2 linked regions of the Homo sapiens genome follow. The protein of the gene in region 1 interacts with the protein of each later gene in a biochemical or structural test. Each region holds a gene or a part of one and is shown in the gene's direction. Other genes may lie near its edges.

Region 1 (8,666 bases):
ACTCTGGTAAGGAAAGTGGTGGAGAGGGGCCCTTGGGTCTTCTTGCTTTCATTCCTGACCCTCCGTGTACAACTAGATTGGAAACCGTAGTCAGCTTTGTCACCTCAGGTGGCAATTTACTCCGAGTAGGATTCTCATGTCCCTGTTTGTCCCCAGTGACTCTAGCATTGAGTTTATAGAACTGCGATCAATACCTAAAATTATTTCCAGATCTTAAGCTGATTTATGCTTTTGAGGTTTCCAAAGTAAAAATTGTCTTTCCGGTATTTTATAAGACCTTCTAATTTAAAAAAAAAATGTGTTACTATGAAAATTTAAAACATTTTAACTTTTGTTTTAAAGAAAACTTTATTTGAAAGTTTCTTAGCTTGAGGTTTGGCAGCCACTCTTTTTTTAGAAAAAACTTAAATATTTATAGAGATTTTGCCTGATTCAAGGGACTTAAGACGTTTATGAGAGTGCAGATGCTAACCATGATGTGAGGTTTAAGAGGCTTCATTAGTAATGACCTGTGTCTTCATCAGTATGATAGAATGGGACATCAGCACTCTGATCAGGTCATGCTCTATATGCCTTATGGTACAGCAGAGGAAAAATGGGTGAGCCATCATTTGATGCTGAGGATGGGATTTGAGGCTTATGTCTAAATTTTTATTTGCATATTCTTTTTGTTCTGACAGAGAAATTCACTGCATGTAACTATGACCACGCATGATTTTATCAGAAGTTGATTAGAATCTGTAACATTTTCTGTAGTTCAGCTGACACACTGAAGATGTCCTCACTGTGACCAGCCTTGTCAACAGCTGGATCACAGTGACATAAGCTGTGTCTAGGATGAGTCTTGCGGTCTGCAGCCGTGTGAGGCTGCATCTGATTCCCAAGTCCAATGGCTCTCTTCCCGTGTTTACAGATCAGGCCATGACCTTTCCCTACAGCAGGATGTTTGCAAGATTAACTCTCAACTGAGGAATTTGCTTATTTGCTCTAATACTGCTTGGTTGAGAGAGTTCAAAGTAGAAAGTCTTCTGAGGGGATAAGATTCATGTATTATTTACAGTGCTTCAGTTGCATGTATCAGAAAATCTAGTCTAAATTGCTTTAACAGAAAAAGATGTTGCTGGTCCATTTGACGAAGAAGTCCAGAGCGGCTTGTGACTTCAGTCTGGCTTTGCAGAGCCCAGGTGCTCTCTCCACCTTCTGCCAGGTTCCCCTATGAAGGCTTTGCTCTCAGACTCTCCCCTTGTGGAGACAAAAATCCCACAGCAAGTGGAAACAGAAGTGCCTTGGAAAAAGTTATTCTGGCAGCTCCTATACAAGTCCCCCATCAGATGCTGGTATTGGACCAGCTTTGGTTATAAAGCCCTGCTGTGGCACCAAAAGGAATGTCGTCCTGATACAGCAGCCTCGGGTCACCCAATCCACTCCAGATACTATGGCTGCAGCATCAATGTAAGCAGACAAGTTGTGCTGCCTCTGAAATAAAGTAGATGAAATATTCAGCAGCAGAAAGAACAAGTTTCCACTCCAGTGAACTAATTCAAATGTATCCAGCATCTAGATATATGTATAAATGTAATTAAAACATATTGAGCATCTAGAGCATCTCTCCCAAGATAATTACCACCTGATAGTAATGGCTATAAAAGCTAAAAGTGGAATCAGTCTACATGTTTCGCAATAGGAATCAATTGAAGCATACATCAAAATGCAGACAGTAGTATTGGTGAGTATTAATGTTATAGATGCTTTTTATCCTTCATATTTTCATATCTGTACTTTTTCCTGTATTTTACAATGTATTTGTACGTTGTACAAATAATTGCTGATCATGTAAAAATATAGAAATATAGAAATTTTGTTGCCATACTTGGGTCTTTTCCACTATGAAATTGAAAAAAAATTCTATAATTCCTGGTTCTTTTATAATTTGATATTTGACACTCTAAATCTTCAATGAATTTGGAGTTTATCTTTCTGTAACACAAAGCTGTGAATGAATTTTTGTTTTTCTCCCCAAATGAACATTATCTAGTATGCAATACATCATTTCAACATAGAATTGAGGTGTCATTTTTATTATATACTAAATTTGTAAATATATTTGGGTTAATTTCTGAATTTTCTTCTTTGTGAATTGATTTTTCTCCTATATTTGCATCTGCTATTATGTATTAATTATTGAGGCTTTGTAATGTGTCACAGGTTCTGTCAAGGCTGGGCTGTCATTGTTCTCCTATTACATATTTTTTCCTAGCTCTTCTTGCTTGTTTATTTTCCCATTTGAACTTCAAAATTACTGTGTTTTATTAAAAGACCCTTGTAAGATAGAAGACAGATTTGATTTCATTAAGAAAAAACAGAAAAAAAAGCAAATTCAAAAGACAAGTAACAGAGAGTCAATGTTTTTAACTCATATTCCAAAAAAATATTAATTTTTAATGTATAAATTAATAAGAAACAGAGAGAAACCCCCTGTAAATAACAAGGTGCATGAGAAACCTTTGATAGAGAGAGTGAAATGTGGTCAGCATTGCTCATCATAAAAGAACAAATGGAAAATGCACTGAGAGCTACTGGCCAGGGCAGCGAAATGGCTCCTGCTACTCACACATGGTAAACAGCTAGGAAACTGGACAGCTGTGTGTAGAGCACTTTTTGCACATGGTGGACATGTCTGAGATCCACAAGATAAGGGGAACAGGAGGTGAACTCCATTAGTGACCGTTTTCTGCCTGGAGCACTTCCTAAACTGCAGGACAAGGAGGGGGCACCCAGAGCCCAGGCTCCTGCTTAAAAGAAGAGGCAGAAATTGAGTCTGAAGAGGCTGAGGTAACTGGAATTTGCAGAGCATGTTACTAGCAATGAGGGACGGCTGAGAGAAAGAGCTCCAGAAATCTGCAGAGGGATCCCCCTGAGCCTTCTGCTGAATATTAAGTGCTAGCTGTGTAGGGTGAAATTTGCAAAGCAGGCAAGAACAACTGCCATGAAGCTTTGAGGTGAACTATTCACAGTGCTTGCATCAGGCTGGGGACAGCCATTCGAAACAGCCACAATGGAGACAGCTTATTAAACAACCAGGGCACCCAGGAGAGAGCCCAGAAGGGACACACCTTGATGGATAAAATAGTTCTAAAGGCTACTCTAGACACACAAACAGAACACAACAACAAGCCAACAAGTGATCAAGCTGATCTACAAGTAACTCACTGCCTGCTAACACAAGTGTTAACACTTTTAAGGGAAGCAATGAAATCTAGGCACTCAACATGGTAATATCTACAATCCTGTTTTACTAGAAAGGAGTAAAAACAGGAAAACATAACCCATAGCTGGAAGAAGAATCAGTCAAAAACAGATCGAGAAATGGCAGATTATACAATTTAAAACACCTATTTTACACAAAAAGAATAAAATACCTAAGAATACAGCTAACCAAGGAGGTGAAAGATCTCTACAACAAGAATTACAAAGCACTGCTGAAAGAAATCAGAGATGGCACAAACATGGAAAAACATTCCTTGTTCAAGGATAGGAAGAATCAACATTATTAAAATTGCCATACTGCCTAGAGCAATTTATAGATTCAATACTATTCCTATTATACTACCAATATCATTCTTCACAGAATTAGAAAACAAAACTATTTTAAAATTCATATGGAACCAAGAAAGAGCCCAAATAGCCAAGGCAATCCTAAGCAAAAAGAACAGCTGGAGGAATCATGCTACCCGACTTCAAACTATACTACAAAGCTACAGTAATGAAAACAGCATGGTAATGGTACAAAAACAGACTCATAGAACAATGAACAGAATCGAGAGCCCAGAATTCATGCTACACAGCTACAATCATCTGATATTTGACAAAGTCAACAAAAATAAGCAATGGGGAAAGGACTCCATATTCAATAAATGGTGCTGGAATACCTGGCCAGCCATACACAGAAGACTGAAACAGGACCCCTTCCTTATACCATATGCAAAAAAACAATTCAAGATGGATTAAAGACTTGAATGTTGTTAAAAACTTAAGCCAAATTAAATTTTAAGGAGTTTAATTGAGCAATGAATGATATGCAAGTCGGGCAGCCCCCAGAATCACAGCAGATTCAGAGAGACTCCAGGGATGCCTCGTGGTCAGAACAAATTTATAGACCAAAAAAGGGGAAGTGACGTACAGAAATCAGAAATGAAGTACAGAAACAACTGGATTGGTTACAGCTCATCATTTTCCTTATGTGAACACTTAGCAGTGTATGAGTGGTTGAAGTATGGCTGCTGGGATTGGCCAAGACTGAGCTATTGTTACAGATGCATACTCCTAAGTTAAGTTCTCAATCTTGTCTACATATTAAGTTAGGTGGCAGTTCATCTACAAGGACTCAAATATTGAAGTATGGAGTTCTTCTCAGGTCACATTTAGCCTGTTTTAACAATGTAAAACCTAAAGCTGTAAAAACTCTGGAAGATAAGCTAGGAAATTCCATTGTGGACATAATCGCTGGCAAAGATTTTATGATAAAGATGCCAAAAGCAATTACAACAAAAACAAAAATTGACAAATGGGACCTACTTAAACTAAAGAGCTTCTGAACAGCAAAAGAAACTATCAACAGAGAAAACAACCTACAGAATAGAAGAAAATATTTGTAAGCTCTACATCCAACAAAGGCCTAATATTCAGAATCTATAAGAAATTTAAACAAATTAACAAGCAAAAAAACAACTCCGTTAAAGTATAATAATAATAATAAGTGGTTAAAGGACGTGGACAAAAGATTTAAGCAGACACTTTACAAGATATAGAAATAGGAAAAAGTGTTCAACATCATTAGTCATCTGAGAAACGAAAATTAAATCCACAGTGAAAGGCCACTGTGTACCACTAAAATAACTAAAATTTTAAAAACTGGACATTGCAAGTGTTGGTGAGGATATGGAATAACCAGAACTCTTATAAAAGTTTCTGGTGGAAGCCTGAAATGTGTAATCACTTTAGAGAACTCTTAGGTGGCTCCTTACATTGTTAAATACACATTTACCACATGAACTGGCAATTCCTATCCTAGGTAATTACCCAAGAGAAATAAAACATTTTTTCTTTTTCTTTTTTTTGAGATGGAGTTTCGTTCTTGCTGCCCAAGCTGGAGTGCAATGGCGCCATCTCGGCTCACTGCAACCTCCACCTTCCAGGTTCAAGTGATTCTCCTGCCTCAGGCTCCTGAGTAGCTGGGATTACAGGCGCACGTCACCACATCTGGCTAATTTTTTGTATTTTTAGTAGAAATGGGGTTTCACCATGTTAGCCAGGCTGGTCTTGAACTCCTGACCTCAGGTGATCCCCCCACCTCGGCCTCCCAAATTGCTGGGATTACAGGTGTGAGCCACCGTGTCCGGCCATAAAACATTTTTTTACAAAAGGCTTACAAAGGAATATTTATAGCAGTTTTATTTGTAATAGCCAAAAGCTGGAAACAACCCAATTGTCTATCAACAGTGACTGGAAGGACAAATTGTGCTATGTCCACACATTAGAATACCAGTTGGCAGTCAAAAAGGAAGAGCTGATCTGTGCAGCAATTTGAGTCTCAGTAATTTCATGGTGAGTAAAATAAGCTAGACAGAAAAGAACACACACTGATGACTATATGAAGTTCTGGCACAGACAAAATTCATACTTAATGACAGAAATCAGATTGGCACTAACCTGAGGCAGGGGCTGGGTATAGGAGTGACCACTACAGAGGGCACGGATGCTGTGATCAGGAGTGGTCTCTACCTCTGTCCATGCACACTGAGCTATACCTGTAACAGGTAGATTTCATTTTGTAAATTGTATCTCATGAAGTTGATTTGAAAAGCCTACACTGAGAGGCAGTATTTTAACTATTCTGAGATAACATTGATTAAAAAATGCAACATGCCAAAATACACTAATGCTGTGATGCCACTTGTTTTTAAAAGGAGTAAAGAGCTACACACATGCATCATGCACACTTAATTTTGCATAAAGTATCTGTGGAAATACCTTCCTCTATCTGACTTAATACCATTGATGAATCTTGGGATGGATTTTTTTCCTGGTCTGGATCTTGTTAATACTCCTGTGTTGAGCCACAAAGAACTGATACTGACATCTTTTAAAGAAATTTAAATAGAACTCCAAAATGACCCTAAGTCAGTTTTCACTTTTTAAAATTTTATTTTATTTTGAGGCAGGGCTTTGCCCTGTTGCCCAGGCTGGAGTGCAGTAGCCCAGTCATAGCTCACTGCAGCCTTGATCTCCTGAGTTCAAGTGATCTTCCTGCCTCCGCCTCCTGGGTAGCAAGGACTTCAGCAAGGACCATGACTGGCTAATTTTTTAAATCATTTTATTGGTAGAGATGGGGGTCTCACTATGTTGCCCAGGCTGGTCTCGAACTCCTGGCCTCAAGTGATCCTCCTCCCTTGGCCTCCCAAAGTGCTGGGAGTACCCAGCCAGTTTTCACTTTTAAGATAAATTACATGTTTCAAACATTCCAGGCACCAAAATATATCACATTTTATTGGAGATATTTATATTTTGCTGAATAAAAGAAAGGGATTTTTTTCTCTGCTGTTTCAGCATTTGATCTGTCGAAAGAATAAACCATGAGTTTATACATGAGCTCTGACACAGGTTTTAATCAATTTTAAAAGTTTATTTTGTCAAGGTTAAGGACAGCCCATGACACAGCCTCAGGAGGTCCTGATGACGTGCTCAAGGCGATTTGAGTATAGTTTGGTTTTATAAATTTTAGGGAGACATGAGACATCAATCAATATATGTAAGATTGATTAGATCCAGAAAGGCGGGACAACTTGAAGTGGGTAGGGGGCTTCCTGATCATAAATAGATAGAAGACAAACAGTTGCATTCTTTTGAGTGTCTGATTAGCCTTTGTGATTTACAGGAATAGTCACTTAGGCTGTAGTCTGGCTTAGTGAAACAACAGGGCAAAGGAAACAATCAGATATGCATTTGTCTCACGTGAGCAGAGGGATGAGTCTGAGTTCCATCTGTTGTCCACAGGGAATTTCCTTGTGATCAAATTGTGAGGGAGGTGTGTAGCTTCTTACCTTTGTAGCTATCTTTTTAGGAATAAAATGGGAGGCAGGTTTGCCTCACAGAGTTCCCAGCTTGACTTTTCCCTTGGCTCAGTGATTCTGGGGTCCTGAGATTTATTTTCCTTTTACAAAAGCAAGCTTCCATTAGCGTACTTCATCTCTGTTCTGTAAATTACTGAGGCGAAACAGTGGAAATGAATGCCTTCAACCTTCCAGATCCTGGCATCCTGCAGTCAGTCACGCATGTGCCTCCTAATTGTAGACAGTGAGACAAGAACTTCTCAGCCTCAGGGCACTTGTGGTCCTACACTGAAGCTATTCAGCTTCTTCGCTCTGCTGATCCCTCGTCCAGTAACAAGAGAATAGTCTATCTTCTCGATATACTTCAGAGCTGGAAGAATTATGTGAGCTTTGTTATGACAAGCCCTCTGATGAGTGTATGAATGTCCAGGCAACACTGTAAACGTAAAGTGCCATAGAAATGCAGGCCGGCGTTACTTGTAGGCTCAATTCCCAAGTCTTCCTAGAGTTTTACTCATCAGAAAGTCTACAGGCAGCCAGTTCCAACATTTTTGGCAAGAACAACAAAATATATTAAATTTATACTATATATTATAGATAGTTACAAAATATATTTTTAAATTTTAAATTCTTATTTTAAATTAGTATTGAAGTCTGTTAATTGCAGGAAGAAGATACATAACAGGGAGGTTTGGCCAGGTTTTGTTTAACATCCTTTGGGGCCCAAGGATTTTATAATTTCTGAGATGAGAGTTTAGAGTTTCTGACTCTCAGCATAGATTTGATTTATTAGGAGAAATAGAGATGATACTGTCAATGAGGATTTCCAGTCATTTCCTTTGATAGGCTATGCTGTGGTAATGCTTCATTGTGTTACCAAAAAGGGGTCCCGATCCAGACCCCAAGAAAGGGTTCTTGGACCTGGTGCTAGAAAGAACTCAGGGCAAGTCCATAAAGTAAAAGCAAGTTTATTAAGAAAGTAAAGGAATAAAGAAGGGCTACTCAATAGGTGGAGTAGTGGCATGGGCTGCTCAACTAAGGATACTTACAATTGTTTTTCAATTATATGCTAAACACGGAGTGGATTATTCGTGAGTTTTCTGGAAAAGGGGTGGGCAATTCCCGGAACTGAGAGGTCCTCTCCTTTTTAGACCATATAGGGTAACTTCCTGATGTTGCCATGGCATTTGTAAACTGTCATGGCGCTGGTGGGAGTGTCTTTTGGCAGCTAACGCATTAGAATTAGTGTATAATGAGCAGTGAAGATGACCAGAGGTCACGTTCATTGCCTTCTTGGTTTTGGTGGATTTGGCCAGCTCCTTTACTGCATGCTGTTTTATCAGCAAGGTCTTCGTTACCTGTATCTTGTGCGGACCTCCTGTCTCATCCTGTGACTTGGAATGCCTAACCTTCTGGGAATGCAGCCCAGTAGGTCTCAGCCTTATTTCACCCAGCTCCTATTCAAAATGGAGTCCCTCTGGTTTGAACACCTCTGACAATTGTATATGAGAAGAATGAAATAATAATAAATTTCTCACTTCTATTTAGCAGAATTTT
Region 2 (8,666 bases), on another chromosome or scaffold:
CTGAGGACGTTTCCCTGAATTTATATACCCTTTTATGTGTCATTGTAACTCCTTTGTGATTTAAAGCACTGCCACAATGCAACTTTATATTCTAGTTAAATGAGCAAATTAATAGAATTCATTACCTGCTGAAGACTGTAAACCTGTCTATGAATAGGTCAGACATAAGCAGATGCTCCCAGAGGACTTTAGAAAACAAATGCAAAGGTTATCACAAATAAGAAAACTTCTGATCCACAATAGTTGAATTCTATTTCAGATTCAGTTTTTCTCTATTTTTAAGCAGCATATACTGTGTCTCAGCAGGTTGAATTCGAAGTGGGCTTTTACAGTCATTGACCCATTGATCTGACTTAAATCAGAATTCTATTAAAGCTAGAATCAACCTTTTCTTTTTAGGCAATTGCTTCTCCTTAGCCTGTTGCTATTGAAACTTCCTTTCTAAACCCTCAAATCTAGGGATTAGTATTAAAGCACACCTTCTAGAGACACAATTTTATCTCTGCTTTTATCTTATTTTCAGTCAAAATTGCAGATCATGTAAGGATTGTTCCAAATGTCAGAAATGAAGCCCTTTTAAAGGAGATTAAAAAAATCATTTTTAAAGGCAACAGGGTTAGTTCCAAGACTGTGTGTTATGATATGCCAAGTTTCTGTTTTCTTTAAACCTCCTAGTTTTTAAGGCCAGCTCACTGATTAATTGAGCATCTATTGAACATCAACTTTGCCCAGCTGATGCCCATTGCATTCTGCCCTGATTAGTAGTCAGAAAATTTGATTAATTGCCCTGAGATTCTCAGGGTTAGCACTCCTCAACTCAGTGCATTTATGATTGGAAGGGTTCAGACTGGACCACGGATTGCTGTGGCCCAAGGATACAAACATACGGAGACTGGGGAGTAAGAAGATCAAAAGACACAGCAGGGTAAACTAACCACCCAGCTGCGTGCACTCCGCGACCTTGAGCTTCAGCCTTTCTGAGTGAATAGGTTCATATCTGTTACTTAAAAGTGTAACTTACTCTTTTTCATGGAATAATTTCAAATTAGCCTAGTATACCTTATTCCATGGTAAACCCAGAATAAATATTTATTGAAAGACTGAATGAAGGTTTTTAAGCATTTTAAAAGCACTCTCTAGTCTAATCCACAAAATGTGTTCTTCATTCAGAGGCTCAAGATGTGTTGCTCGGTTTGAATATATTGGAGAGCAGAAGGATGAGTTGAGTTTCTCAGAGGGAGAAATTATTATTCTTAAAGAGTATGTGAATGAGGAATGGGCCAGAGGAGAAGTTCGAGGCAGAACTGGGATTTTCCCCCTGAACTTTGTGGAGCCTGTTGAGGATTATCCCACCTCTGGTGCAAATGTTTTAAGTGAGTATAGAGAATTTTTTTTATTATGTTATGTCCTAATTCAAATAAACCAAATAATATCATTATACTTAAGCTGTATAATAATCCATATTGCCATATTTTTACGGTAGAAGGAAAACTGATTTTAAAATGGGAATTTGTGTGGGATAGACATTATTTGTGGGCATCTCTCAAAGAGCTGGTTTTGGTATTTTAGGTAATTAGCAATAGCTTCATATAAGAAATGGCAAAGAGGCTGGGTATGATGGCTCAGACCTGTAATTCCAACACTTTGAGAGGCCACGGTGGGCGGATTGCCTGAGACCAGGAGTTCAAGGCTGCAGTGAGCTATGATTGTACCACTGCACTCCAGCCTGGGCAACAGAGCCAGACTCTGTATCTAATAAATAAATAGCAAAGACTTTTAAACAGAAATGAACTATAGACTGTTACTAATGTATATAGACTATAAATAGTTGTGTTTACAATTAACTAAACAAGCTCAGTGAAGTTAGTACAGGTTAACGCAACATAGACAATACATGAAGAGACCGGAGTGGAATCCCAGAGTCTTCACTCCCACCTCCCACCTCAACCATTTGTTTTTAATACTATGTGGCCTTCACATCTAATGTTCTGACTTCTTGTGTTTGTTTGTTTTTTTAATGTAGGCACAAAGGTACCACTGAAAACCAAAAAAGAAGATTCTGGCTCAAACTCTCAGGTAGGCTGCTTGAACAGATGACTATAGTGACAGCCAGGTTCAGACTCTGGGAGGAATATTAAAATCATAATTTTCAAGAGAATATAGTATGAATTAATTTTTCAATTCATACAACAAATGTTTGTAATAAATTCTTAGATGGTTAATATATTTTATATAGAGAGCTCATACAAAAACATGTAAACCCTGATAGAAAATGAAAACAGAGACTGGGCAGAGTGGCTCATGCCTGTAATCCCAACACTTTGGGAAGCCAAGGCAGGTGGATTACCTGAGGTTAGGAGTTCGAGACCAGCCTGGCCAACATGGTGAAACCCTGTCTCTACTAAAAATACAAAAATTAACCAGGCATGGTGGCGTGCACCTGTAGTCCCAGCTACTTGGAAGGCTGAAGCAGGAAAATAGCTTGAACCTGGCGGTGGAGGTTGCAGTGAGCCAAGATAGCACCACTGCATTCCAGCCTGGGTGGCAGTGCGAGACTCTATCTCAAAAAAGAAAGAAAGAAAATGATAAAAGAGACATGATTAGAGAATTCATAAAAGAGGCTGTGCGCGGTGGCTCATGCCTGTAATCCCAGCACTTTGGGAAGCCGAGGCGGGCGGATCATGAGGTCAGGGGATCGAGACCACCCTGGCTAACACGGTGAAACCCCGTCTCTACTAAAAATACAAAAAAAATCAGCCGGGTGTGGTGACCAGCGCGCGTATTCCCAGCTACTCAGGAGGCTGAGGCAGGGGAATGGCGTGAACCCGGGGGGCAGAGTTTGCAGTGAGCCAAGATTGCGCCACTGCACTCCCGCCTGGGAGACAGAGCAAGACTCTGCCTCAAAAAAAAAGAAAAAAAGAAAAAAAGAATTCATAAAAGAGATACCATAAGTGGCTAATATTGAAAAAATATTTAACCTTTCTAATAATCAAGAAAATATATAATAAAGCAGCAATAAAATACCATTTAACCTATTCAGTTAACAAAGATTCAGTGCAGCTCAGCACTAAACAAGCAATTATAAGCATGTGAGTGTTAAAAAAAAAAGAGAGAAAGTACACATTCTTATTTGTCACCCTAAGAAAAGGATAAAAAATGAGATAGGGTTTTAGTCACAAAGATGAGCATAGTGCTAATATAATAAGAAAAAATTGGAAACAACCTAAATATGACCATTATTGGGAGAATATTCTAAAGCTATGAAAAACTAGATTTATCAAATAAAATAATGTTTTTAAATGTCATGAGAGGAAACATAGGGAAAGGGGATATAAAATTGAATATATAGCATAAAAAGACTGGAAGGAAATTATTCAAGTTACTAGTATTAAATTGCATCTAGGTAGTGAGATTATATATACGGGTAGGTTTTTTTCCCCCACTTCTTTTTTTTTTTTCTTTTTTTTGAGACGGAGTCTTACTCCGTCGCCCAGGCTGGAGTGCAGTGGCGCAGTCTTGGCTCACTGCAACCTCTGCTGCCGGCTTCAAGTGATTCTCCTGACTCAACCTCCTGAGTAAGCTGGGTTTACAGGTGCCTGCCACTGTGCTTCGCTAATTTTTGTAGTTTTAGCAGAAACGGGGTTTTACCGTCTTGGCCAGGCTGGTCTTGAACTCCTGACCTCGTGATCCACCCACCTCGGCCTCCCTAAGTGCTGGGATTACTGGCATGAGCCACTGCGCCTGGCCTTCTCCATTTCTTTATACGTTTCTCAACTTTCCAAATATTTAGGAACATTTGTTTCATTTGTATAATGAGAAAGAGAAAAATAGTGGGTTAAAATTTTTACACTGTTCAGCATGACCCCAGAAATGCTTAAAGGTACTAGGAATGTGGTGCCTTCTGTTGTTTTTAGTTTTTTGTTGTTTTTGGTTTTATTTTGGTTTTTTTGTTTTGTTTTGTTTTGTTTTTTTGAGACAGGATCTCACTCTGATGCCCAGGCTAAGTGCAGTGTCGAGGTCTCAGCTCACTGCAACCTCTGCTTCCCAGGCTCAAGCAATCCACCTCAGCCTCCTAAGTAGCTGGGATGACAGGCACACACCACCACTCCCAGCTAATTTTTGTATTTTTTGTAGACAGGGTCTCATTTTGTTGCCCAGGCTGGTCTCAAAATCCTGGGCTCAAGCGCTCCACCTGCCTCAGCCTCCCAAGGTACTAGGATTACAGGGGTGATCCACCACATCCGGCCTTCCATTGTTTTTTGTGACAAATTTAGAAGAGTTAAGCCTGATGGGATCATTGTGTTTGTGAAAATGTCACTTGTAATTGGCCTGTGTGTCCCTTAATTCTTTATCCCTACCCACTGATAAAGTGAAACAGGAAGGAAACTGACTACAGTTCTCCAAAAGGAAATGTTCACATGGTTGTTGCCTGCATTTTTGGAGAATGATAAGTTCCATCCTTTAGGGTTGGTTACTCAAGTGCAGGAGCAAGAGGGGGTTAGTGTTGTTTGCTTGCTTTTTGTTTTTGTTTTATAAGCCATCAGTTATTGAGCACTTAAGATGTGCCAGGCACTGGGCTAAATGTTAGACATGCATTGTCTCATTTAATCCTCTTAGTAACCCCAAGATGAAGCTGAGCCTCAGAGAAGAGAAGCGTCTTGCCCAGTGTCACGAAGTTAAGAAGTGGCAGAACTGGGTCTGGAAACCTTGCCTGTGTAGCTCCAAAGCCTTTGTCCCGGCCAGGCGCTGAGGCTCACTCCTGTAATCCCAGCACCTTGGGAGGCCAAGGCAGGTGGATCGCTTCAGGCCAGGAGTTCGAGACCAGCCTGGCCAACATGGTGAAACCCCGTCTCTACTAAAAATACAAAAATTAGCTGGGTGTGGTGGTGTGCACCTGTAGTCCTAGCTAATCGGGAGGCTGAGGCAGGAGAATTGCTTGAACCCGGGAGGCAGAGGTTGCATTGAGCCAAGATTGCATCATTGCCCTTCAGCCTGGGCAACAGAGCGAGACTCCATCTCGAAAGAAAAAAGCCTTTTCATTATCCTCTACTGCCTTCTTGAGCCTCTTGAACATAGGGTTCCCATCCCAAATTGGCAGAGCTGCCTCTTCACAGAGCAAAACCTTTCTCTAATGTGCCTGGGATAAAAGTGTTCTTACACTAGCCCACCACATCTGGGTGTTATCCTGCCAATCTTAGAGTTAACTACAGCTCATAAAATTAAAAGTGTGAATTGATGAAGTTCTGTGCTATGGACTCTAATTGTCTCTGAATCAAGTAAAGACCTGGGAATTCATAGACCAACCCATTCTGATCCTTCCTAATTTAAATAAAGAAGAGCTTCACTGATAATTACATACTTTATCAGAATTTTTTCATAGTGTCAAATACTATGCATAAATATTTTATGCTTTTACCTAATTCTTTAATATAACAATATAATAGGTCATATTAAGAAAAAAGTTTTTTGGCTGAGTGAGGTGGATCATGCCTGTAATCCCAGAAGTTTGGGAGGGTGGGAGGATCACTTGAGCCAAGAGTTCAAGACCAGCCTGGGCAACATAGTGAGACTTCATTTCTGCAAAAATAAAATAAAATTAAATAGCCGAGTGTGGTGGCTGCACCTGTAGTCCCAGCTACTCGGGAGGCTGAGGAGGGAGGATTGCCTGAGCCCAGGAAGTCAAGGCTGCAGTGAGCTATGATTCTGCCACTGTACTCCATCCTGGGTTACTAAGTAAGAACTTGGCTCAGAAAAGAAAATAAAGAAAGTAAAAAAGTGTTTGCTTAAGCTTTGTATATCCCTTAAAAGCAGAAAAGCCACAAATTCTATCACACTTGTCATTTAGAGTTATAATTTAAGAAAAAATTATTGGAAACTTTTACTTCTGAAACTTGATAGCAACATAAAGTATTAGATAATTTAAAGAAGCCTTCAGGCTTTGAAATCTTAAGACCCCTTAGTTTTTTTTTCCCCACTACTTTTTAAGCTTTGTAGAACTCAATTTCAAATAAAATCTTACACTTCTGACCACACCTCTAATTTGATAACAGGTTAACAGTCTTCCGGCAGAATGGTGTGAAGCTCTTCACAGTTTTACAGCAGAGACCAGTGATGACTTATCATTCAAGAGGGGAGACCGGATCCAGATTCTGGAACGTCTGGATTCTGACTGGTGCAGGGGCAGACTGCAGGACAGGGAGGGGATCTTCCCAGCAGTGTTTGTGAGGCCCTGCCCAGGTATGACAACCGCAAGACATGAATGCGACTCCTCACGGGGAGCCTGAAACCTTCAAAACTATATACATTCCTTTCCCCTCTGGCCATGCTCAGTTTGTCTGTCTATATTTGAAAGAGCTGATACATGAAGTTATGCAAACTTCATTCATATGCTTTGTTAGAGTTATAGAAAAAAAAGATAATGTCTTCACTAAATAATGGCTAATTCCATCTAATAAATATAGTTTACGTAATTTTTCCCTGCTAAAAGAACATTGTTCATCTTTTTGAAAGTTAAATAAGTTCAAAATTAATTGAACATGTTTTTAAAAATGTTTTTCTTTGCCTAATATCACTACCTCTGAAGAGAAGATACTGTGTTTTTAGAGCGATAAGCGTTTTTTTTTAAAAAATGTTAGATTTGTGTTTTAGTCCACTGTGTTTCTATATATTTAAATTTTTTATGTCTTCACAGCTGAGGCAAAAAGTATGTTGGCCATAGTACCGAAGGGGAGGAAGGCCAAAGCCTTATATGATTTCCGAGGGGAGAATGAAGATGAACTTTCCTTCAAGGTCAGAATGTGTATCTCTTCATAACTGCATTAAGCACTATAATTTTTTAAATGTTTTCCATTGAAGGATGGAACATTTGGGTGGAATATTAATCATTACTCAAGAATGAAGAGATCTCAGGCCCTGATTCTAGGGGAAGACATTAGAGAAAGTGAACAGTGCAAATAGGCCTGTTAATTTACAGTATCAACCAGGCATTAATGTACTTAGAGAAAACCTTGGCTTTACACCCCCATACATCCCCAAAGTAATCCCTGTTCCTTGGTCTTAGGTCATCAGATCTCAGTAATATTAGGGTTTTTATTAGTAGCCCTGGTAACAGATGACTGTCTACATGGCCCTGCAAGCCTGCCATTGATGTGTCTTTGAAATTGATGGAGAATCAGATAGCACCTGCTACAATTTGCACTAGTAGCATAGTAGCCTCATAAGACACTAAATTCCTTTGGGAGGCCGAGGTGGGGGGATCACGAGGTCAGGAGATCGAGACCATCCTGGCTAACACGGTGAAACCCCGTCTCTACTAAAAAATACAAAAAAATTAGCTGGGCATGGTGGCAGGCGCCTGTAATCCCAGCTACTGAGGAGGCTGAGGCAGGAGAATGGCATGAACCCGGGAGGTGGAGCTTGCAGTGAGCCGAGATTGCACCACTGCACTCTTGTCCACAAAGGCAATGACCAGAGGTTTGGGGAAATAGTCCCAAAAGGTTGAGCTAGTTTGCAAAGGTTTTTTTTTTTTTTTTTTTCACCGAAGAAATGCCTAATTTCTTCTTAAAGTAAAAGTAGATATTTTCTTTTCTTTTTTTTTTTTTTCTTTTTTGAGACAGAGTCTCGCTCTGTCACCCAGGCTGGAGTGCAGTGGGGCGATCTCGGCTCACTGCAAGCTCCACCTCCCGGTTCACGCCATTCTCCTGCCTCAGCCTCCCGAGTAGCTGGGACTACAGGTGCCCGCCACCATGCCCAGCTAATTTTTTTGTATTTTTTTTAGTAGAGACGAGGTTTCACCATGTTAGTGAAGATGGTCTTGATCTCCTGACCTGGTGATCCGCCCACCTCAGCCTCCAAAAGTGCTGGGATTACAGGCGTGAGCCACCGCGCCCGGCCAAAAGTAGATATTTTCATGATTCTATTTCCCTAATCCACAACTGGACCATAGTCAGAGGAAAGCACTTTGGGAACAGTGCTAGAAGAAGGAGGGTGGTTTTAGTAGTCACTGCTGTCAAAATAGCCTGTGTCAGGCAGTGGTAAATTCTCTGTCATTGAAGATATTCAGTCAGAGGAAAGGATGCCATAGAAAGAATTAACATATCAAGGAATGATTGGACAAGGTGTGGTTTAAAACAGTGGACAACCAAACAGGGTTTTCACTTGTCTGCAACAAGATGAGAAAAAGGCCGAGCAACAGTGGCTCACACCTCTAATCCCAACACTTTTGGGAAGTCAAGGCAGGAGGATCGCTTGAGGCCAGGAGTTTAAAACCAGCCTGGTCAACATGGCAAGACCCCATCTCAACAAAGAAAAAGAGGAAAACAAGGCAATACCTGAATCAGGTATGTGCAGCCTTTGTCGGGGTAAGGGGGGATGCCTTGACTGAAATATGTCACCATAAAGTTGCTAACTTCCTATTTTGTGATGGGGTTTTACTTTATTCTGAATAATAAAATGTTATTTCATCTTTTTGTATTAAATGTCATTTCTGTTATAATATATTGTTAGCAAATAATAGATATTTCTTATTCTTCCTTCCTTTCTTTTTTTTTTTTTTTTTTTTTGTTTTTGAGATGGAGTCTCGCTCTGTCGCCCAGGCTGGATTGCAGTGGCATGATCTCGGTCTGCCTCCTGGGTTCAAGCAATTCTTCTGCCTCAGCCTCCCAAGT

What was found.
Region 2: the proteins of SH3YL1 (region 1) and SH3D19 form a complex in vitro, tested with the Homo sapiens proteins (one study listed by BioGRID).

The regions. Positions count from the first base shown.
Region 1 is NC_000002.12:253,145-261,810, reverse strand, and holds part of SH3YL1 (SH3 domain-containing YSC84-like protein 1), read left to right. Parts: intron 1-680; exon of another isoform or gene 681-1,726; intron 1,727-5,470; exon of another isoform or gene 5,471-5,604; intron 5,605-8,666.
Region 2 is NC_000004.12:151,125,741-151,134,406, reverse strand, and holds part of SH3D19 (SH3 domain-containing protein 19), read left to right. Parts: intron 1-1,170; coding exon 1,171-1,373; intron 1,374-2,023; coding exon 2,024-2,076; intron 2,077-6,050; coding exon 6,051-6,237; intron 6,238-6,691; coding exon 6,692-6,789; intron 6,790-8,666. UniProt on the Homo sapiens protein: May play a role in regulating A disintegrin and metalloproteases (ADAMs) in the signaling of EGFR-ligand shedding. May be involved in suppression of Ras-induced cellular transformation and Ras-mediated activation of ELK1.